5 linked regions of the Homo sapiens genome follow. The protein of the gene in region 2 interacts with the protein of the main gene of each other region in a biochemical or structural test. Each region holds a gene or a part of one and is shown on either strand. Other genes may lie near its edges.

Region 1 (4,903 bases), about 70 Mb from region 2:
AGGAAATTGAAAAAGGTACTATCAATTGTATACAAGCAGAAAGGGGGGCAGAAGGCAGGTTTGAATCTTCTGCATCTTAGGCTAGTAACACATTGTAGCTCAATTCAATTCCATTTAAACACCTTCTGCCTACTCAATAGATACTAGAGTTGTTCAACGCTACACTATAATTTTATACTCTAAAATCTGCTATAGAAATTGTAATAATTCAGTAACCAAATTTTGACTAATCAATTATGAATCATTGTTAAATATACATGACTCAATGAGAAGAAATAATAGGATAGTGGACAACTAAGTGAAAAAGTCATTCATATCATACATCTGGAATGTTCTAAAAAGAACATAATGTGATATATTACAAATAGTAGGACTAGTCCAAAGCATACTATTCCTTTTGCTTTTATAAAAGATGGGAACAAAATCTTTCAATGCTCCACATACCATATAAATAGCTTCTCAAAGAGCTTTCTGTAGTTTTATAGGAAAACTAAGGCCCAGTGTTTATTTTTTAGGAAAAGCTCCAAAGAACTTGGGCCAACATATAATGGGGTGGGGGGAGGGGGGAGGGATAGCATTAGGAGATATACCTAATGCTAAATGACGAGTTAATGGGTGCAGCACACCAGCATGGCACATGTATACATATGTAACTAACCTGCACATTGTGCACATTACCCTAAAACTTAAAGTATAATAATAATAAAATAAAAATAAAAATAAAAAAATAAGGATCCAGACCTGATTCTATCATTTATGAGTACTATGTCCATAGGAAAGCCACTTCAACTCACTGTACTTTTTCTTACCTGTAAGAGATCAAACCTGATAAAGTATCAGGTTTATTCCAGCTCTAACACTCTGAAATGCCACAAAATGCACTCCCCAATAAATTAAGATTAAAGGAATGCCCAAACCCCAAACATGATCATTGTGATCATTTCTTATGAAACATAAGAATGAGACATAAGAATTTTATATGAGATACTGGCAGAATTTGCTGAGTCAGTCTCAGGCAACATTTAATAAGTAAATATGCAGCTAAGCAGTGGACTATAATGCTTTTACACAGCCAGAAAATAGCAATATTCCTAAAATTAATGAAAGCATACACAAATCCACTCAGGATGCTAGGACACAGGCAGCTGAATGATATGAGCTTATAATCTATTCTTCCCAGACTATTTATCTTATCACAGCAACACCCTGAAGCCACATGCAAAGGATGAACCAGACTCCCCAGTGCTCTATAGAACCATGAGTGAAGCAGCTCTGGTGAGAAAAAGGATGAAGCCTCTGATGATGGACAGAAAAGAAAGACAGAAAAATAGAGCCTCTATTAATGGACACTTCTATAACCATGAAGTAAGTGAGTTACAATTCCATTAATGTAATATAAAATAAGGTTCCCTGTTTCACTAACAATACCACCCAATTCAATTCACAATTTAAAGTCATAATAATAACAGTAGCATGTCTAACATCTTGGGGGCACTCTCTATGTGCTAGATATTAAAGTAAATGTGTTTTAAATAGATTTTTACTGAATTATCTTATTAATCACTAAAACAATCCTATGAAATAGGTACCATTATTTTCTTTACTTGACATATAAGCTAATTGAGGCTTATGGAGATTAAGCAATTTGTCTTAGATTATGCTACTCTTAAGTAGTAACTCTCAACCTGAACCCAGCTTTGTCTGACTCCAGAACACAAGTTTTTAACCACCATGATGGGTGAACTCTATCACTGTGCCAAGTATTAAAAACATGCAGATGAGGCAGCCGATGTCTCAGCCAGCACGGAGCTCAGGGATTGAGCAGGGAAACCAACATACCAACAATAATACTGGAATAATGTAAGTGCTACAAAGTGGTTGGATCAAAGGACATTTGAACGTGAACATTTAAATAAAAGGAAAAAGCCACAGGCCAATTTATTCCAATAAATCAAACTTCTCATGTTGCCATGTTCCAGGTCTTTTACCTATACACATACCGTTTTTATATAAGTGTAGTTGTAGTTTAGATACAATTCACATTCTGCTTTTTCACTGAATATGTGTTAAATTTATATGTGCCTTTCCATAGTGCTTGTAAGACATTACATTTTGCTGAAGGTAGGAAATATATCATCATTTTTTTCCAGAACTCAAATATTTTTCATGTGATGTACTTTAGCAATCATTCATCGCTCCATCTCATAAATACTTAGCACTTACACTGTGCCAGGTATCTTCTGAGGCCTTTAATAAGAAATAGGAACTCATTGCTTTGTAGGCTTTTTCCTGTAAGGATTTCTACTTTATTTCTTCTTCTTCTACCCTTGGGGGGTAACGATAGTGTGTCTTTGGAGCCTGGTGGGGAGAAATCTCTCTTCTCAATTATTTATTCATATCAGAATTTTAGGGTTCCAGAATCATTCTCATAGCTATAAAGTAGCATTGATAGTCCCCCACAGAGAGGTACCTACCAATTGTCCTGTTTCCCTCTTCACAGAAATTGTGTTGTATGTCATTATCTTGTGGGGTAATTTGTGTTGAAGAAGGAAAGCCACATTGCTCCAAGCAAGTGGCTTTCAGATTGGATCACTTGTGCTGGAAATGAAATTGACACTAGGTTGGCAGCACGGAATGGTGGTTAAATGCTTGGGCCCTGGAGCTTGACAGCCTGGTTTTACATTCTTGCTGAGCAAGTTTCATTCTTCTTACTTTACAAGGCTGTTGATGGGATGGAATGAAATGAGGTAAGTTCAGCATAAGAATAGTACCTGGCACAAAAGAACTCGGTCTACATTAGCTTATGTTGTTGCTGTTGATTGAATGAGCTCAAGCTGGGACTATAGATATTTTACACAAATGTCATTCACTGCAATTTAATAACTAGCAGAAAACAATACAAACAAAAAAGAAAAAACAAAGCATTCTATCAACAATTATACAATGACGGACATCTAGGAATTTTAGTGGATATGTTTCTTAAGTTGCTGTGTGTCGTAAGATATGTTTTTATACTATGAAGCCCCTTGTTAATGCCAATATTGTTAGGCTATGAATAACACACATATTAAAGGCTTAGATTGTCATATCTGGAGATTAGTTATGGTGAATATAACTTGACCAGTAGTATATTTCTATCAATGTGATAGTAAATGATAGCAGGTTTCATTATATGTTTTGGCCAACACAACTGATATAAAGACTATAGATTTAAATACTGCTCTGAAAAACAAATTCACTATATGTTGACATTTTAGAAGAGCTCTTAGAGATTAGTCTTACTATCTTATTTTATAAATGAAGTCATTTATCAAATATATGTTAAGTGAGTCAATAAAGATGTTAAATGAGTTGACAAAGTTGGAGTTCGTGGGCATTTAGTGGGCACTAAAATCTAGGTCTCCTGAATGGTAATCCATGTTATTGTCATAGTGCATGAAGCTTCTTCACATAAACAACATCAAACCACGTGTACAACATATCATATTCACCTTAGCGCAGGATGAACATGTGGTTTTTCAGGGCTCCATAGAAATCGTAAATGTCACAGAATAACTTATCAATGCTCTAAAATGTCTACAAATATTGAATTTTCTCATACTTATAAAAGTTTATCCTAGACACTCTCCACACATCTTCTCAGAAAACTTATTTACATATCCACATTTTTACTCACACAAATGCCGTGTGTGTGTGTGTGCGTGTTACATGTGTGGGTGTTATAAATGTTTGTGTCTGTATACTTTGATGTTAATTTACTGATCTCTCAATATAGGACTTATCTTTTTAACAGTCCAATGAGCCACCCCAAAACCCACCCATCTCTACATCTGCTGAACCCACCCCATTTCTACAGAGCCTTGGAATACTTGGAGATTGTGCATATAAATAAAATATGTGGAAATAAATCCTTACTTAATATCTCTATCCGTTTTTAAATATGCATCTGGTGACATTCTTTCTTACTTATTTTGAAATCTTAAACTGCACTAAAGAGGGGTGTAATTGTCCAGTGAAAATGTTATAAGCATCCTCAAATGGTGTTTTACCTAATTTACTCTAGAAACAATATAAAGCTGCTTAAAAGAACACATAATATTCAAAAACAACAAAGAAAAACAAACAAAAACAAAACAAATTTTTTAAATTAATGACCTTGGATTTTTTTTGCCCTATAAGAAGATTATGTTCAAGATATTGAATACCCTTAATATAATATAATTTTAAAGACTTATGTGACAATTCTTTTTCTAGACATCAATTTTCATTCCAGCCTTTGAATCAGAAACTAAGGTCAGAGTAAACAGTAACATGAGAACTGAAGAAGTAATAAAGCAACTTCTCCAAAAATTTAAGGTAACCTTTATCACTTAACTGAGCTATAAATATATTATATATAATTCAACTATAAACACACAAATCCACTCTTCTGAAACAGATCTATAAAGGTGTAAATCTAAATTGGATGTTGAGCACTGAAAGATTCTTTCCTTTGTATAACACCTTTTAGTAACTATCCCTTGAAAAATTATATAATTCCCATAAGAGCAGAGAAGATTTTATGTCTAAAAGTGAAAAATGGAAGAGAGAAAACAGACATGATTTGGGTCTGGTCAGGTTAGAAAACATCATATAACAACAAAGAATTTATATTTGTTCATTTTTTCCCTTGACAGATTGAAAATAGTCCCCAGGATTTTGCTCTTCACATTATTTTTGCAACAGGAGGTAAGAAAGCTTGATCACACTTTTTACCTGACTCTAGAGTGCTACAGTTTGCTGCCCAGGGGGAAGGCAGAAGAACAGTTTGCCTCATTCTGTGGAGAAAGGGGAGGAATGGGTAGGAGAAAAGGAAGGAGTGGTCTTTAGAACATTATCTATAGTCCACAATTTTAAAGAAAGA
Region 2 (3,599 bases):
GCACCGTCTTCACCGTACACACCCTGCTCTGGGCCTCCCGGTCGTGTCCCCTCCCCCTCCATCCCTGGCCCCCCTACTGAGGCCCCTCTTTCCGGCTGGTCAGTGACTCTTGCCCCACTTCTGGCTCCAATGCCCACTCCAGCCCCAGGAGATCCCGGCTGCCTGAACCGGCCTTGGAAGCTTCTAGACCCAACATGGGCAGGCCATCTCCTTGCCAGCACCCCCGGGAGGCCTCCCTACCCAGGGCGTCACTGCCCTGCCACATCTGGTGACCTCCACGTGGACCCCTGGAAGACACAGTTGTGTCTATGCCAGGGTGGAGTCCCCAGGGGCCAACGAAGGCTGGGGCCAAGGAAAGTGAACGGTGCACGCAGAATGGCTGGGTTCATGTGCCGCCCGGAGCTCCATGGCAGGACCCCAGGGCCTGGGAAGGGGCAGTGAAGCCCCCGTGCTGGGAGAGCCCAGCCCTTCCCGCCCACTGACCCCACCCCCCCATCTGTACGGTGGGGGTGACGTTGCCGACCCGCCCAGTGACCCCACCCCCCCATCTGTGCGGTGGGGGTGACGTTGCCGACCCAGAGGAGCAGGCTTCGGGGGCAGGTTCCTGCGTACCTAGCGTGTCTCCTAGGCAGGGGTCCAGGAGCTCCCTTCCTCAGTGAGCCTGGGGCTGAGGCCCTGAGACAGTCATGTCCATGCCAGGGTGGAGGCCTTGAGGCGCCTATGGGGTGGCAGGAGCCCCAGGCCTGGGCCCACAGCAGACAGGAGGCAGGAAGAGCCAGCCCCCGGCACATGAGAACCAGGGACAGGGGGTCCCTGCTACCAACTGCTGCCCTCCACAGGTGAATCGAAGGCCTGGGAAGGTGAAGACCCTCCTCGATCTACAGTTCTGAGGTCCCTGAAATGGCCGCAGGGTCCTTGCTGCCCCAGCGGCTCCGTGGCCACCAAGGTCCCCAATCCCAGCGTGCCCCTCCTCACCCTCAGTCCAAGCTTCCGGAAGCAGCCTCCATGAGGCATCTGTGAACAAGTCCGGGCTGCGGGCGGAAGGTGTGACTCCCCTCTTGAGCGTGCCCAGCCCGTTCTCTTGAACAGGTCCCAGCAGTGGCCCCAGAGGCCCTCATCCTGGCCTCGACGCAGCAGCCCAGCCAGCATGTGGGAGCTGTGTGGGGCCTGTGTGTCTTACTCAGCCAGGCCCGGTGGAGATGCCATCTGGAGGCCCAGGGGTCCATGTGGAGCAGCTGAGACTAGAAACTTCTCCCAGTCAGGCCTCTGCTCATTCAACAAGTGTCCTACTAGGTTCTGCCAGGGCTAGGAGCTAGCCCTGCCCCCAGGGGACAAGGGGACAGTTCTGCCCATCTCCTTCTTGTCACCAGGTCCGCATGGCTCCAGATGCCAGGCTGCAGGGCTGGGAGATATCGTGTGGGGAGAGGCAGGGGTTTGCCCCCTCTCGCCGGTCAATACCGTGGGCATTTGGGCATTTGCCTGGAGTGTTCATAGGGCTCTGAAGGGGCCTGCAACACCACACATGTCCAGAAGCCCGGCTCTACCCCGCCAGCCCCACATGGACAGATGGGAGGACAGGCCCCTGAGGGCCCCAGGAAGCTAGTGTGCTCAGGATGGAGAAACACTTGTTTCTGGAGACAGGACAGCTCTGTATGGACCAAGGATGTCCACATCACAAGGAGGGGGCCACAGCCAGGCCCTTCCTGCCTACGGGAGCCAGCCTCGCCCTCCTGTGCAGGGCAGCCAGCCCCAGGCCTGTGACTCAGCTGCCTGGCCCCGCCCTGAGCAGCACGCTGCCTCACCACCTACATGCCAGGGCCTGCCCGGGGAGCACCTTCTTGCCCAGCATTTCCCTGGCAGGGATGGCAACACAGAGGACCCAGCAGAGCCTGCACCACCTCCAGAGGGGCCTGGCCTCCTGGTCTCACTCCTGGTGCCACATCTCCAAACATCCAGACCTGAGGCCACACTGGGATCTTGTTCCCTGCCGCTTGGGCCACCTGTGAACCTCTCCCCGGCGCCCCACGGCTCCCTGCCCTCGGCTGGCTGGTCCTGCCGGCTCCGACTGTGCTGTCCAGCCTTCCCAGGAGGGGGTCCTGCTGGAGGCCCCACAAGATGCAGCAGGAAGGCCCCTCTTTCCACATGCGCAGGCCCCTCACCGGCTGCCGGTCGCCCCCAGGCCTCCCAGACACTTGTCCATGAATGTCTCTGTGCCAGCCACTGCCAGCTGCTCTGGCCTAGGCCTGGGGCAGGACCCCGCCCCACCCTGGTCCTCAAAGCTGAGTCAGGAACCCTGGCAGGCACAGCGGGAGCAGGGGCTGCACTGGCCTGGCCGGGGCAGGGGCATGGCCTGAACTCTCCCAGGCTCTCCTTCGAGACCCAGGCCTGGCACCTCTCCCACTGCCCGCCCTTCCTGCCCCCCGAGGGACCCCGTCCCCCAGGCACTTTGCTCAGCCTCTGCCTCCATGCTCCACATCATCTGTGCTGCCAAGCGCAGCCACCTCCTCTGTGAAGCCTCCCCAGCGCCCCTTGGAAGCTCGCAGGGCACAAGGACACCCAGGCAAGGCTGAGCCGGCTCACACTGAGAACACGGCAGGAAGGGGGGAGCGAGGGGAGCCAGAGGCGGGGACCCTACAATCCACTGTGGCTCCCAAGGCCCCTTCCCTTCCCAGCCTTCCCACCACAGCGCACCCCACGGGCTCCTGCTAAGGCCTGTGCACTCCTGCTGATGGGCCCCCATGGGAACGAGAGCACCCCCAGAACCTTAGTTCCAGAGTGTGACCCCCCCAAGGTCCCCCTGTCCGTGTGGGTCCCCAGCCAGGATCATGACTGTGTGTGATGGGCTGGGGCTGGGATAGAGCTCCTCAAATATTTGCTGGGCATTGGCGAGGGAGTGGACAGCGCCCAGCAGGGTGCACAGTGTGGTGAGTGGGGAATAGGGGAGTGGGGAATAGGGGAGTGGGGGTGACTGAGGGCACAGGAGTGCATGTGGCAGACCCCAGGGAGGGGCTTCAAGCCGGAGCTCCAGCAGTGCGGGCTGAGATGGGCACAGGTGGCCAGTCCTGGAGGGAACATGGGGGTAGGCCAGGTCACAGTCACTTGCAGGCCTGAGACTTCCACTCTGCAAGACCTGGCTGGAACTTCAGGTGGAAGGCAGACACTTCAGGGGAGGAGGGGGAGCAACCTAGGGTGGCTTCTGGTGGGATCCGGGAGGACCACGTGTCACAACCAGGCTGGGGGCTGTGGAGGAGGGCCGAGGCCAGCTGGTCAGTTCAGGAATCCCCTGGGGAGCCACGGAGCTGGGCAGGAGCCAGGAGATGCTGGGGGGAGACAGGGCTCTGGGGAGACGGGGCTCTGGAGAGAGGGGGCTCTAGGGAGAGGGGGCTCTGGGGAGAGGGGGCTTTGGAGAGGCACCTAGCAGATGCCCTCAGCAGCTTTGCAGGCCTGAGACCAGTGGCAGGCTCCTGGGGCTGTGTCCCCAAGAAAACCAGCGGTCTCAATCCACATCAGAGTGAGGGGGTCTAAGCTGCATCTGCTCCTGCGGAGGGCGGGGCACGGGAGCTGCCGAGGAGGCCTCTCTTGGACAGAGCAGGAGCCAG
Region 3 (4,903 bases), on a different chromosome or scaffold from region 2:
ACACTTAGATTGAGAAACATCAGTATCAAGATCTACTAAATATTCTGTGTCTTTTTGCCTTTATCGTCAGCCAAACCCATTTTGTCAAAGCCAAACCTAACATTCTCTGTTAATATTTTATACCAAGTTTCTCATTTACATTAGAAATACATACTTGATCATGAAAAACAAGGCAGTAATATGGATTTAAAAGATTTCTAGGGAACAAACTGGAAAGCTGTAAAGGTCAGACATTCGAATTGGTTTGTAGACATGGGCTATTTAACATCTTTAAACATAAAAAATCCCTCATGAAGATAAAGAATAATATTTAGTCTTATCCAAATTGAATCAGACCGGCTTCAAGGATTGTCAGTACGTGAGAGATTGGTGTTCAGAACTGCTGCACCAGAGGCAAATATGAAGTGTGTCGAAAGAATGATTTTGTACCTGAGTGACTTAGGATTTACACGCTCCATGTCCTTTGTGTGATGAGCTAGTTCTAGCTAATGTGCAAAAGACAAATTAGCCTCTACAAACACATAGGGGCAGGTTGCGATCCAGTGCATCTGTGGTGCTAACGATAGTTGCTGATAGAAATTGAGAAACGGGAAAACAACCCGCCTCCCCCCGCAAAATGGAGAAAATTGAAAGAAGTGTGATTCCCTTGCATTGCCAGAATTTCTGACGTAGAAATTCGCGGGTAAGTGCAAGTGATTTGCTCGTTTTGTTCTCATTCTGTAATGCAGCTGTTATTATGAAGTACCTGTGACAGCATTCACTCTGGAAGTCATAGCCTGTCACCTCGATGTGATAGAAAGGAAAGCAACATGGCTTTTCCGCACTTTTACATTTGCCCTTACTCACACAGAGCTCCCACACGTTGCTATGGAATTATCATCTGTATTTTTCAACTTAAATTTTGTTGGGTAGTAAGAAAATAAGTCTTAAGAGATTAATTCTTAAACATTAAAAAGAACCCAAGAGCTAAAAATGTTTGAATAGCTATAAAATAGTCTTAGCAAGCTGGTATATACTGTCTCTCAGCAGACCTGTGTACATTTTTACTGGCCATATGCAGTTCGAAGCCATGTCTTTATATGTAGGGTTTGAAGGAAGAGAACATAGATCGAACATTTGTGTTATACCTCCTGGGTTACATTAGGGGGCACACTGCTACCATGTTACTAGCCTTGCAGTGTGCTGCCTTAACTGATAAGAGTTTAGTGGGGTTTTGGGTTTTTTTTTTACCCCAGCCAGCCATCAAACTGTGGGTCTAACCCTACAGCGAAGACTGAGCTGACCTGCCATATTTTGAATTTCAGGTCTAACTTTTGACAGAGGTAGCAGTGAATTGGGAACTCTTAATTGGCCTTAATGTTAGGCTCCTACTAAATGACAGGATGTGTATCTACCAGCGTTATTTTGTTTACAAAGAGAAACCAAAGTCAAGTTAGCTTAAGAAGATAGCATTTCTCAAAGTGTATACCATAGAACACTAGTTTTCCAGGACATTATGTAATAAGCGGGGGAGAAAAGGTCTATAGTCAAGTAAGTTTGGAAAACACTGGACTGAACAAAATTATTTGTATTCCTTTATTCTAAGCCTTGAAAATGCGAATATGTTTTGAATATACACAAGGAGTATACAGTGTGCAGCATTTCCCAGCGGAACCCTCTTTTCACAGAGCATCTATCTTAGGACTCGTTTTCCTTGGGATACTAGTTGGGAAAGTAACAAACTCAGATGCCAAATGGGGCCAGACAGCTGACACAAATGAAGGAGGCCGGGTGTAGTCCCCACGTGGCATAGTGGGGACTGGCAAAGTGAAAAGGGACAGCCCTTCTCAGCTTTTAAAGATTATCTCTATTAAGAGAATGTGTGCCATTGTGGCCAGAACTCCTAGTTCTTTATGAACTGCCAGAATTCTGGAGTTTCATGTGAAATTTGAAATGTTAAAAATTAACTAAATTAGGTTTTTAAAAAACTGCTGAGGAAACAGCTCACATCACAGGCTACAGCCCCGAGGGCTGCCAGTTCGCCAGTTCAGCTCAGGAGTCTGGAGTCTGGAGTGATGGCTGGAGAAATCAGGTGCAGAACCTCGGGTGCCTCTGCTCCTCCTCCTGAGCTCTCTGGGTCTTCTGAGCTGAGTGTGCTCAGCGGCCCTGGCTCCTGGCCTGCAGCATGCCCTGCTGAGCTGGGAAAGTGAATAGCGCCCCCAAAGGTTTTATGGCGTTTTTAGGTTTTTGGGGTTTTTGGCCAGTTCCCTCTCTTCCAAACTATAGGACTAATGTGTGCCTCCAGATTATCTTGGTGGATACCTTTATTTATTTTTTGAGACAGGGTCTCATTGTGTTGCCCAGGCTGGAGTGCACTGGTGGCTCCACGGCTCACTGCAGTCTCAACCTCCCAAGGTTCAGGTGATCCTCCCAGAGGAACTGGGATTACAGGCATGAGCCACCACGCCCAGCTAACCCTTTGGATTTTTAGTAGAAATGGGGTTTTGCCATGTTGCCCAGGCTGGTCTCAAGCTCCTGGCCTCAAGTGATCCCTGCATCGGCCTTCTAAAGTATTGGGATTACAGGCGTGAGCCACCATGCCCAGCTCCTTTCTCCTCTATCTGAAAATGATAAGGAGTAAACTGGGCGGTGAACTGAACTCGAGGACTGGTGGCCCTCGCAGATAAACGTCTGGTGTGCATTTTCAGTGCTACAAAGGACAACACTCAAATTTGAGTGTGAGTGTATTCGTCTGCTCGGGCTTCCCTCACAAAATACCACAAACTGGGTGGCTTAGACACTGGGAATGTATTTTCTCAATTCTGGCAGGTAGAAGTCCAGGATCAATGCGTGGCAGCCTTGGTTTCCCCGAGGCCTCCCTCCTGGGCTTGCAGACCGCCCTTCCTGCAAGGTCTGTGTGTGTCGCATTCCTGACGTCTCCCTGTGTGTCCAAATGTCTCTTATAAGGACACCAGTCAGCTTGGATTAGGATCCACCATAATGGCCTTTTACCTTAATCACCTCCTTAAAGGCTGCATCTCCTGCTGCAGCCGGCTTTGGGGGTGCTGGGGGCCGGGGCCTCCGCGTCGGGGCGTACATTTCAGCGCATCTGCGTTCACGACTCAATGCTGTGTCTCCCTCTCGTTTCCTTCTCCCCGGAGCAGGGCTCTGTGCAGTCTTTCACCCCCTCTCCAGTGGAGTACCACTCGCCAGGACTCATCTCCAACTCCCCTGTCTTGTCGGGCAGCTACAGCAGTGGGATTTCTTCTCTCAGCCGGTGCAGCACGTCGGAAACCTCAGGCTTTGAAAATCAGGTGAATGAACAGTCGGCCCCCCTGCCGGTGCCAGTGCCGGTGCCCGTGCCGAGCTACGGCGGGGAGGAGCCAGTGCGCAAGGAGAGCAAGACTCCGCCCCCGTACAGCGTCTACGAGCGGACTCTGCGGCGCCCCGTCCCGCTACCTCACAGCCTCTCCATCCCCGTCACGTCGGAGCCGCCCGCGCTGCCCCCCAAGCCTCTGGCAGCGCGATCCAGCCACCTGGAGAATGGGGCCCGGAGGACTGACCCCGGCCCGCGGCCCAGGCCCCTGCCCCGCAAGGTCTCTCAGTTATAAGTCACTTTTCTATGTACCTGCGATGCATTCTTTGCCCGTTTACAAAATAAGAAGTATGATGAGAAGACATTTAGTGTAGGCACTTTAATAACTTACTCAGCTCCTTCGATGAATGGAATTAAAACTTGCTTATTAAATATCATGTTGCACAATATTAAAAGTTGCTGATCTAAAACGCCAGATGTTAAATGAAGTATGGCTGAATTTCATTAAAACGTTTCTCATTTGGAAGTGGTAAATAGTGATAAAGACTCCTTTTGTACCTTTTTATGTTCACTTTTTTTTATATAGTTTAATCTTAAAACCAATACGATATTGTCAAACGATACAATGTGTGACAATGTTGTATCGTTTTTACTGAATACTTGATACTTGGAGAAAGCTTATTAAGTCAGTGCACATCCTAACACAGTGGTCCTTATTTTAGAAGACTTCTGTAAATAAGGCAAGGTTTATCAGTGCAGATCATCAGAATTAAAGTTCAAGCAGGCGAGCAAGACAGTATACTTAAGGGGTTGCAAAGCTTGGGACTGGAAATTGTTTTGTTCTTGAAACAAAATACTTCTTTAAGGTTGCTTTTGCTGTTTGACTGCTGTCTACATTCGTAAAATTCTATTTTGTGAATTGGTAGCTAAATCCCTTACTACCCTGACACCGTGGTATCTACTGTATTTCTTTTCAAGGTGCAATTTGCTTCAGAGTTCCAATCAGCTAGATTAAGCAAGAGGCTCCAGAAGAAATGTTTACTTGAATTTTGCGCTTCCTTTCTTGATAGTTTCCTATATAAAATTTGTCATTGAACAAGAGCAAATGCTGAAGTATTAATGAGGCACAAATGACTGTGCCCCATTAGCAAGAATTCAGGAATCAATACAGACAGTATTAAATTAATAGCTTAAGTGAAGAAAAAAAAAACTTAGTGAAAATGTATTAGCACGATTAAATGGCAAAAGGACTTATAAAAGGCAAGGGCATTAACTTTCAGTCCTGCACAAAATAAAAAATTCCTCACGACTCTCCACTTTTACCAGTGGAGTTTGTCTTAGCTGACCTGTCGTCTTTCTCTTGAAGGAGGATTGCTGTAGACTTCTCTAGCTTGAATATTGCAACATAGCATCTTAGGTCTAGATAGGGATGCTAATGCCAGTTGTAGAAGTGTGAAAAAAGCACCTTGTATGTAGTAATGTATTTTATATCTTTGTTTTTTCTTTTACTGACTGTTTATAACACTCAATTGACAATAGATATGAACTGTATTTTAAATCATACTGTTAAATATTTTCCCTCTTTTGTTGGGAAGCTCATTTTAGTTT
Region 4 (4,903 bases), on a different chromosome or scaffold from region 2:
TCAAAGATATGTGCTTAAGGAGATAATGATGAACATACAAATGAGAAAATTTTAAACTTTCTATTTTCTAGGAAGATTCAGCCATTTTACAAATATTTAAGGTATAAATGTTTTAAGGCCTAAATAGGTAAAATAAAGTCAGGGAAAGGTTTACCTGAGGTGGTAGATATTTATGAGTAGAGCAAATCACAAAATACTTAAGTATATGCAGCATAACAGCACAAAACCTAGTGAAAGAGCCTCAGAAGTTTAAGACAGAAAGTTTAATGGTAAGAACACAAAACAAGAGATTGAATCAAAGATCTGTTTAGCTTTGGACTCCCTCACAGGTATAGCTCTAAGACTGCAGAACCTTTTTTGTTTAATCAAAAAGCCTATACTAAAAGGATCACAAGATTTCTTAATTCATGTACATCTATCATCCGTAAGTTGATCTAAACTATTCTTAAACCTCCAGTTTTAAATAACAGCAGCATTTGAGGATAATGATGAGCACCTGCATATCATTTTATTATGAAAAATATATTTTTCAAATTTCAAGGGTTGAAAGTTTAGCTCTTGAAAGTTTAGAATTTAGTAAACAAGTCAATCTTCACCTTTTCCATAACATATTCTAATCTATCGAATAAGAATAGATTTATGAAATCTGAATACTCAACCATGCAAAAAGCTGGTTCATTAAAAAGACTAATAGAAAAAAGGCAAATTTCTGATGAGATTACACAAGAAAAAATAAAGACAATATCACAAATAAAAATGGAAACAAAACTACAGATACAAGAGAAAAAATATGTAAGTAAATAAAATCTTTATGCAATCATTTAAGACAAAATGGTCAAAGACTTAGAAAAATCTAAGAAAACTGATGAATGAAGAAATTTAATCACCAGTTTAAAATGTTCCTACTAGAAATACAAAGTGCAGATGATTTTACAGGTGAGTTTACTAAGCTTTCAAAGAATTTACCATTCAATCTTATACAAACTGTTTCCCCAGGGAACAGAAAAGGTACTATGAGTCTCATATAACTTTAATTTTAAAAAATCAAAAGGGACAGTAGAAAAAGGAAAACCACAAGCCAACTTCACTTATATCAGATGCAAAAATTGAAATAAACTTTAATATTAGCAAACTGAATCCATCAGTTTATTTAAAAATACTACATCAAAACTATGTTGGATTTAACCAAGAAATGCAAACTTGATTTAACAAAAAAAATATAGACTTCTGGGTTAAAATTGTAGCTTAAACATACACATTGTTTTTATCCTTTCCAAGCCCACTAACATAATAGCAAATGGATATTTTTTAGACATACAAGCCAGCAAGAATGGAAATAACAGCAGAAGAGACAACAGCAACAAAATTTCAGAAGCTGGAAAGCAGAAGAAAGTAACTGACTTAGCCCCAATGAACTGCTTGCAAGTTATTTAAAAAGCACGTAGGCCTGGAAGGGTTAGCACACAACTATAATCACAACACTTTGGGAGGCCAAGTCAGGAGGATGACTTGAGACCAGGAGTTTGAGACCAGCCTGGGCAATATAGTGAGACCCCTTCTCTACAAAAAACTTTTAAAAGTCACATGTGGTGGCCCACGCCTGTAGTCCCAGCTACTTGGGAGGCTGAGGCAGGAGGATTGCTCAAACCAAGGAGTTTGAGGCTGCAGTGAGTTATGATGGCACCATTGCACTCCAGCCTGGGCAACAAAATGAGACCCTGTCTCTAAATAATAATGGTAAAAAACAGGTGGACTCGTAGATACCCTCCTTAATTCTGTACCAACTGGCAGCTGCCCACCCCCCTTCCCCAGCTTCTAAAGATGGTAGACTAGCTTTGGAAGGTATAAAACAAGTCTTTAGCCTGAGGTTTACTGTCAGTTGAGAACCTGTAATACAGAAGCAGGTTAATAATTAATCACCATATGCATACTAAATGCTCAATGAGTTTTTACATGTGCATATACCTGTGTTATCAACACCTAGATACCGAACATTTCTAGCACTCCAAGAGACTAAAGATGCTATTTTTAAAAAGATAATTAATTAAAAACAAGATAAAAACTCAATAGAATTGTTGAAAGATAAAGCTGGGGAAATCTCAGAAAAAAGATAGCGAATAAGAAAACCAAGCAAAAAAGAGGTAGATGAGAAATCAGTAAGTTCAACATTCAAATAATTGGATTCCAGATGGAGAACAGAGAAAAAGAGGTGAAAATCATCAACAAAGTAATTTTTAAAATAATGTCTCAGAAATTTAAGAACAGGAACTATTCAGATTCCAAGATCCCCACATCCACTCATGTCATTGTGAAATTTCAGAATGCTACCGACATACAGAAGATCATACCAGGATCCAGGACAGTGGGGGGGACAGATAACATAAAACGGATTACATATGAAGAATTAGCAGTCAAAAAGGCTTCATAATTCTCAACAGCAACAGTGTAAGCTAGAAAAAAAACAATGTCAGTGACTGATATTCTCAAAATTCTGGAGGGAAATTGTTTCCAAATGAGAATTGTAACCCAGAAAACCAAAAAGGGCCATTCAAGTATGAGTAAAATGAAAACATTTTTGGAAATGCAAATTCTCAAAAAAATATATCTTCTGTGCACCGATTCATGGGGAGCTACCAGATGTCCTAAATGAAAACGGGATGTAAATCAAGAAATAATAAGACACAAGATACCTAAAAACACAGGATATAATTCAGCAGAGAAGCATAGGAAATTTGCAGGTTATGGATAAAAGAAATCCCAGGTTGACAGGGCTGAATCAGGAGGAGTGTAGGGTCAGGCAGGCACTGCTGTTCTTCAAGATCAGCTATTTGCCCAGCACTTTGGGAGGCCGAGGCGGGCGGATCACGAGGTCAGGAGATCGAGACCATCCTGGCTAACACGGTGAAACCCCGTCTCTACTAAAAATACAAAAAATTAGCCGGGCGTGGTGGCGGGCGCCTGTAGTCCCAGCTACTCGGGAGGCTGAGGCAGGAGAATGGCGTGAACCAGGGAGGCGGAGCTTGCAGTGAGCCGAGATCGCGCCACTGCACTCCAGCCTGGGCGACAGAGCGAGACTCCGTCTCAAAAAAAAAAAAAAAAAAAAAGATCAGCTATTTGAAGCTTTTTGACTAAACCACATACAGTGTAACTTTGTTAAAAACACTTTACATTTAAAAACTTTTTTTAAAAAGGGGGAAAAAAATGAAACTAGCCATAAACCTGTGAGAATTTTTTTCTTTCAAAATAGGAGTTAACACTAAAAAACAAATTAGAAAACAATACCATACAAACATACAAAAAAAATGTTTAAACTGCAAAAATGCTTCAGGAATACCCATTGTATATAATTACTAAATTATTCTTAATTAGCCTCTTATTAAAGAAAGCATTTCTATCTGGAAACAATGTAAACCTAGATGAAGCTAAGATACGGAGGGTTGGACTAGTTAGACTGATTCCAAGAATGCATTAAGGAATATATATTGATGTAGTTGTTTGCCACTTAATAAACATGAAACTAGGTACAGAGTAATGATTAAAAGAAGTAATTTTGGGCTGGGCATGGTGGCTTACACCTGTAATCCCAGCATTTTGGGAGGCGAAGGCGGGCAGATCGCTTGAGGCCAGAGTTCGAGACCAGCCTGGCCAACATGGCAAAACCCTGTCTCTACTAAAAATACAAAAATTAGCTGGGTGTGATGGTACACGCCTGTAATCCCAGCTATTCAGGAGGCTGAGGCAGGAGAAGCGCTTGAACCTGGGAGGTCGTGCCACTGCACTCCAGCCTGGTCAACAGAGTGAGACTCTGTTTCAAAAAAATATATGAATAATAAAAAAGTAATTTAAAAAAACACTTTGTTGACAGCTATATTGGCACCATACTTGTTCGATTATTTCATTTTTCTTAACACAATATTCCTACTTTAAAATCATGTATTTACCCTTCTTAATAACAATGCCATAAGAAATGAAAATCTTTTACTTCTTTTAGAAGAGCATATCTTAGGAGGGCAACGCTGCAGAAAAGACAGCAGTCACTGACATCACCCAATACTGGCTTCCTCTTTGAGGTTTTCTCATGAAGAATCTGGTTTAATTACCACAAAGGAACCCTTTCCCCTGCCACTTCCCCTTCTTATGGAAGCCAAGGAAAAATTAAAAAGTAAATGACTTCCCCTTTAATAACCCATCAGGAGGAAGCTAGGAGAAAAGCAGAGGCAGAGCTACAGGCAAAGTTACAAAAGGGTCTAGGGACCGGAATACAGCCATCAGCCAGGATCAGGAGCAGACAACCGAATCTAAATACTGGAATTTTCAGACTACTTCTTTGTCTCCAAGTACAGTAGAATTATAGTTGCATGAAAAAAGGTTAATCTGAAATCTTATACTTACCTTTTCATTAGGTACACATTTACCCCAGTACCAAAGCCAAGCTTCTGCATAAACGGAGAGGCCGGGATATTTATAGTTGGAGTTGAACATAATACTAAATGTCAGAGAAATAAAAAATAAAATTAATAAAAAATAAAAATAAAGCATCTTAACATTCTCAATATACTACTGCCAAGAGTATTAATTGGCACAGTCTTTTTGGAGAGCAATTTGACAACATATATCCTAATTTTAAATGGGTATCTTTTGACCAAGCCTACTTTTGGAGTTTTATCCTACAGTAACTCTGAAGCAGAGATTGGGAAATGGCCTGTTTTTGTATGGCCTACAAGCTAAGAACTGTTTTCACATTTTTAAAACATTGTTAAAAGATAAAGGGGTTGGATGTGGTGGCTCATGCCTATAATCTCAACGCTTTTGGAGTCCGGGGCAGGAGGGTCACTTGAGCCCAGTAGAGACCAGCTTGGGCAACATAAAGAGACTCCATCTCTACACACGAAAAAATTTTTTT
Region 5 (4,609 bases), on a different chromosome or scaffold from region 2:
CTTTTTTCTCCTGTTCTTATAAATTGAAAGCAGGCTTGAAAGCCAAGTGAGAAGTGTGACCAAATAACACTTAATCAGAGAAAATTACAGTGAGTACAAATAAAAAATACTTGTTAACTACCAGGGAAATTTTTTTTAAGAAAAAATTAAGATTTTGGAATGTTGTTCAGTTTTATATCTCACTATAGAACCAACTGCAGGTGATTTTTAAAAAAATATTTATAGAAAGCATCTAAAACATTTTTTGATCTAAAAGTAATTTTTGTTTTTAAATTTTATTCACACTTCATTGCAGACTGTATTTGGATCTGCCTTTTGGTGGCACAATTTCTGCCCTCAAGGAAGGTATAGTTTGGTGGGTGAGAGACATGAAAATAAGGCACTCTGATGAAGTTTACAATAGAGTTATGAACATAATCTGGGAATAGTATAAGAAAAAAGTTATTAACTTTAAGAAGATTAAGGAGATTTTCATTGTGAAATTGACTAGAAAAATTATTGGTTGGTAAATAGCAATCTATGCAAAGTCAAGGTGTAGGGAAAAGAATGGGACATTTAAGTAGAAATACATACAGTTCAGAAGTTTCTAGAGTTAGGGGAGGGCAGGCGCGGTGGCTCATGCCTGTAATCCCAGAACTTTGAGAGGCCGAGGTGGGTGGATCACTTTTGGTGAGGAGTTTGAGATCAGCCTGGCCAACACGGTAAAACCCCGTCTCTACTAAAAATACAAAAATTAGCTGGGTGTGGTGGCGGGTGCCTGTAATCCCAGCTACTCATGAAGCTGGGATAGGGGAATCACTTGAACCCGGGAAGCGGAGATTGTAGTGAGCTGAGATCGCACCACTGCACTCCAGACTGGGCGAAAGAGCAAGACTCCATCTCAAAAAAAAAAAAAAAAAAAAAAGAGGAAAAAAAAGAATTAAGGGGGCATATGATTGGAGGTGAGGAGACAAAGGAAGAACAGTCCTAGAGGCCTTGCTATGAAGTCTGAAACTTCATCCTGTAGGTATCCCATACCAATGAGGGAAAAACATTAACATATAAAGGCTGGGTCCTGCAAGACACCAAATAAACCACTGTGATTTCAGCTCAGCAGCTCATGTGATACCAATCAGAACCAGACAACATACCTCAGCCCTCACTCCCCTCTCCTCAAAATACACCTTGACTGGTTGTTTCAGAAACATGGACAAACTCAGGATCCCTCAGAGACAAACAGCATATAATGTGGATGACAAAACTGTGTACATCAAACTCTCAGCTCTAGTCCCAACTGAAGCTAATACATTATACAGCTGTGAGAGCAGACATTTCAAAATGGGGGTCAGGAAACTGGATTTTGGCAACTACTATCTTAAAAAGCCAGAGTGCAAATAAATTACACTCCACATTTATATCCTATCTGATTTGAGGCTAAGTGCTACACATTCCTTCAAATATGTTGGGAAAATAAATTAGCATCTAATTAAATTTCTTTAATACAATATATTTGCTAAATCTAGTATTTAATACTCAAGAATTATAAGGGAAGGACAAAAAAAAAAAAGAAAACAAAAAATAAAGAAAAAAAGCCCTATATAGATGAGTCCAAAGTGTAATTTATATGGAAGAACTTACCTTTGGAGAAAAATCTGTCTTGTCGTATACACAAACATTTGTATTTATTATTTCAAAGTCCACTCAAACAAAAGTTTAACATGCAAGGTTAGAGGTAAAATTAAGCTCACTATCTGTATTAGGCATCATTTTAAATGAAGGTAAACTAAAATAATTCAAATTAGTTTCCATCATTCAGAGTGCAACACCACCCCACCCCAAAAAAACCCGCAGCAAGAGAACAGGGTTATATTATGAAAGGAAGCCCTCAAGCTCAGTAAAATGTCATCTTTGTGCTCACTCTGGAATGGCTGACAGTGGTAGCTGCAGAACCATCTCTACAATGTATTAAATACATAATGCAGAAGTGTGGGAGATTTGGGAGCCACATTTAAACCCGCATAGCAGCAGATGAGGACAGACCATTTTTTTAACCCACTCCAACAGTTAGAAGCTGATAATGTGACATGTTCTTCTTAATGTTCCTACATGGTAGTCTTCTGCCAAAGTAATTAGCGCCTGCCCATTATTTCAAAAATTTCAATGACATAATTGACTGGCAAACCTTGGTCCATATCAGAAAAGTTTCTTACAATCCATGATGTAATTTCTTGATGCTCATTCATTTATTTCAATTGTTAATTTCTACTTTTTCTTGAGAAAAACATCTCTTAAAATAATCTGTAGCCATCAAATTGCCTGGACTTCAATAATGCATAGAGAAATTTTTACCAAACTTCTGCTTCCTGAATTACATAAAATGCTTATTTTAGCAACATTTTAGCCATATATACATTATAAACATTAAGTTTAAATAACATTTACTGATAATTTCCTTCAAAATACAATGAAAGGTACAGCAAGGGTGAAAATTTCACCTCAGTAGGACAGAAATTTTTTCTCTTGTGAGAAATAACCACATGAAATTGTCAACATTTGACTATTTTTGACCTACAACTAAAGAAAAAAATATGTATTAAAAAAAAAAAAAAGCCTGGCAATGTCATTGGCTAATCAGTTTTCCTCTAAAAATGACTTTCTGTAAAGTACTAAGTGAGAACGAGAAAAATATATTGTCTCAGACTAATACAAATATGTACCAACCTGCCCATATGTGAATTTGAATATAATTTTCTGCCATCAAATTTAACTTTAAAAATCTTACGGTCTACTTAGAAATAAAAATCTGACAAGTTAATGATTTCTAATGTTATCAGCACTTCCTATATCACTTGTAACTATTAAACATTCCTGTACTGTAGGCTCTTATTCATGATCAGTTTGTAAGCACACTCTCAATAGTCAAAAAACACAACAACAGCACTGGGTTCCATGTATTAAAGTGATTTCCCTAACATGATGTTTGCCAACAGCAGCAGTGTTAACTCTGACAGAGTAACAACAAATTGTAAAAGGGCTGTAAATCTCTATAAAGAGTGATCTACCTCTTCCTAACCAGGTAACGGGACTTCTGAAGATACATAACTGCTACCAAGTACAATGTCATAGACAAGAACATGGACTCTGGAGCCCAACTGCCTGGGTTCAAATCTCAGCTCTCTGACTAACCAGCCGTGGGAACTCGGTCAAGTTACATAACCCTTATGTGTCTCAGTTTTCTCATATGTAAAACATTCCTACAACTTTCACTATGAAGATTAAACACAGATTAAGTGGTCAGAATCATGCCTGAGACACAGTGATTTTTATGTAAGTGTTCCCAATACCATCTTTATCTGCACAATAAGGTAGGCAGTGAGAAAAGCAGAAATCTTCCAGGCCCTATTACAGTCAGTCAGTTGGGAAAGAGAAGAAGAGTTCTCAACCACCAGTCAGGAGAATTTAGTTCTAATCACAATTAACCTTTGTTATCAGAGTTTTAGGGGCTTGCATGATTTTATTAGAATATGCTGGAAGCATTTCATGAAAATTCAGATATGAACAGTTACAAACTTACATTTGAAAATTAGAATCATTCTCACATACACACACAGACACACACACATATATATATAATATACATACATATATATGGTCTTCTGGCTTTTAATGAAATTTCAAGTTATATTCAAGAAATTGATCTCAAATCTTTTGAGAACCAATAATGATATTGTAGTTGCATACCATACAAATATCATAGTAGGTTATATTTTTCTATTTTGCAATTTGGATTTCGTGATCAATTTTCACTATCCAACCCTAAAATTTACTCATAACAAATTTGTTATTTAAGGATAATACTGGTGGGGCACAGTGGCTCACGCCTGTAATCCCAGCACTTTGGGAGACCGAGGTGGGCAGAGCACTGGAGGTCAGGAGTTCAAGGCCAGCCCAGCCAATGTGGTGAAACCCCATCTCTACTAAAAACAAAAAAATTAGCCTAGCATGGTGGCAGGCACCTGTAATCCCAGGTACTCGGGAGGCTGAGGCAGGAGAATTGCTGGAATCTGGAAGTCAGAGGTTGCAGTGAGCTGATATCACACCACTGCACTCCAGGCTGGGCGACAGAGAGAGACTGTCTCAAAATAAATAAATAAATAAACAGAAAAAGAACAAAAGATAATAGGATAATATCATTCTAGGCACAGGACTGTTATGAGGATTAGAGCTGACAGGCTGATTTCATATACTGGAGTGCATTTGCCAAATACAACCACCCCATACAAAACAGAGTACTGACTCCCTGTGACAGTTGAGAGAAGTGAAGTGACTCAATGCTGTTCTACTTACTAAGTGGAAGAGGTGGGATTTGACCTGAGGTCTAACTGATTGCAAAGCACATTCTCTTTTCACTACAACATGGCTGCTGTTTCTATATCACATTACTTATTTTACGGTCTTTCTAAACGCGAAGTTAACATACAAAAAGAAAAGCCACAATAGCGATATTTAAAGCCAGACTTAAAAAAAGAACAGCAATAGTGATAAAGGACACACAGTGCAGTAAAAAAGATAGAAGTTCACATGCAAAGGCAGAAAGTGAAACAAAATACGAACGGCAATTTAGAGACCA

What was found.
Region 1: the proteins of RGS12 (region 2) and RASSF6 interact in a test that uses a peptide from one of them, tested with the Homo sapiens proteins (one large-scale study listed by IntAct).
Region 3: the proteins of RGS12 (region 2) and DOCK4 interact in a test that uses a peptide from one of them, tested with the Homo sapiens proteins (one large-scale study listed by IntAct).
Region 4: the proteins of RGS12 (region 2) and PBK interact in a test that uses a peptide from one of them, tested with the Homo sapiens proteins (one large-scale study listed by IntAct).
Region 5: the proteins of RGS12 (region 2) and ITGB1 form a complex in vitro, tested with the Homo sapiens proteins (one study listed by IntAct).

The regions. Positions count from the first base shown.
Region 1 is NC_000004.12:73,581,642-73,586,544, reverse strand, and holds part of RASSF6 (ras association domain-containing protein 6), read left to right. Parts: intron 1-1,180; coding exon 1,181-1,365; intron 1,366-1,711; coding exon of another isoform or gene 1,712-1,726; exon of another isoform or gene 1,727-3,939; intron 3,940-4,254; coding exon 4,255-4,356; intron 4,357-4,676; coding exon 4,677-4,728; intron 4,729-4,903.
Region 2 is NC_000004.12:3,435,317-3,438,915, reverse strand, and holds part of RGS12 (regulator of G-protein signaling 12), read right to left. Parts: intron 1-3,599. UniProt on the Homo sapiens protein: Regulates G protein-coupled receptor signaling cascades. Inhibits signal transduction by increasing the GTPase activity of G protein alpha subunits, thereby driving them into their inactive GDP-bound form.
Region 3 is NC_000007.14:111,726,961-111,731,863, reverse strand, and holds part of DOCK4 (dedicator of cytokinesis protein 4), read left to right. Parts: intron 1-3,143; coding exon 3,144-3,590; 3' UTR 3,591-4,903. UniProt on the Homo sapiens protein: Functions as a guanine nucleotide exchange factor (GEF) that promotes the exchange of GDP to GTP, converting inactive GDP-bound small GTPases into their active GTP-bound form. Involved in regulation of adherens junction between cells.
Region 4 is NC_000008.11:27,823,713-27,828,615, forward strand, and holds part of PBK (lymphokine-activated killer T-cell-originated protein kinase), read right to left. Parts: intron 4,487-4,903; coding exon 4,393-4,486; intron 1-4,392. UniProt on the Homo sapiens protein: Phosphorylates MAP kinase p38. Seems to be active only in mitosis. May also play a role in the activation of lymphoid cells.
Region 5 is NC_000010.11:32,902,470-32,907,078, forward strand, and holds part of ITGB1 (integrin beta-1 isoform 1A precursor), read right to left. Parts: coding exon of another isoform or gene 4,600-4,609; exon of another isoform or gene 4,594-4,599; intron 1-4,593.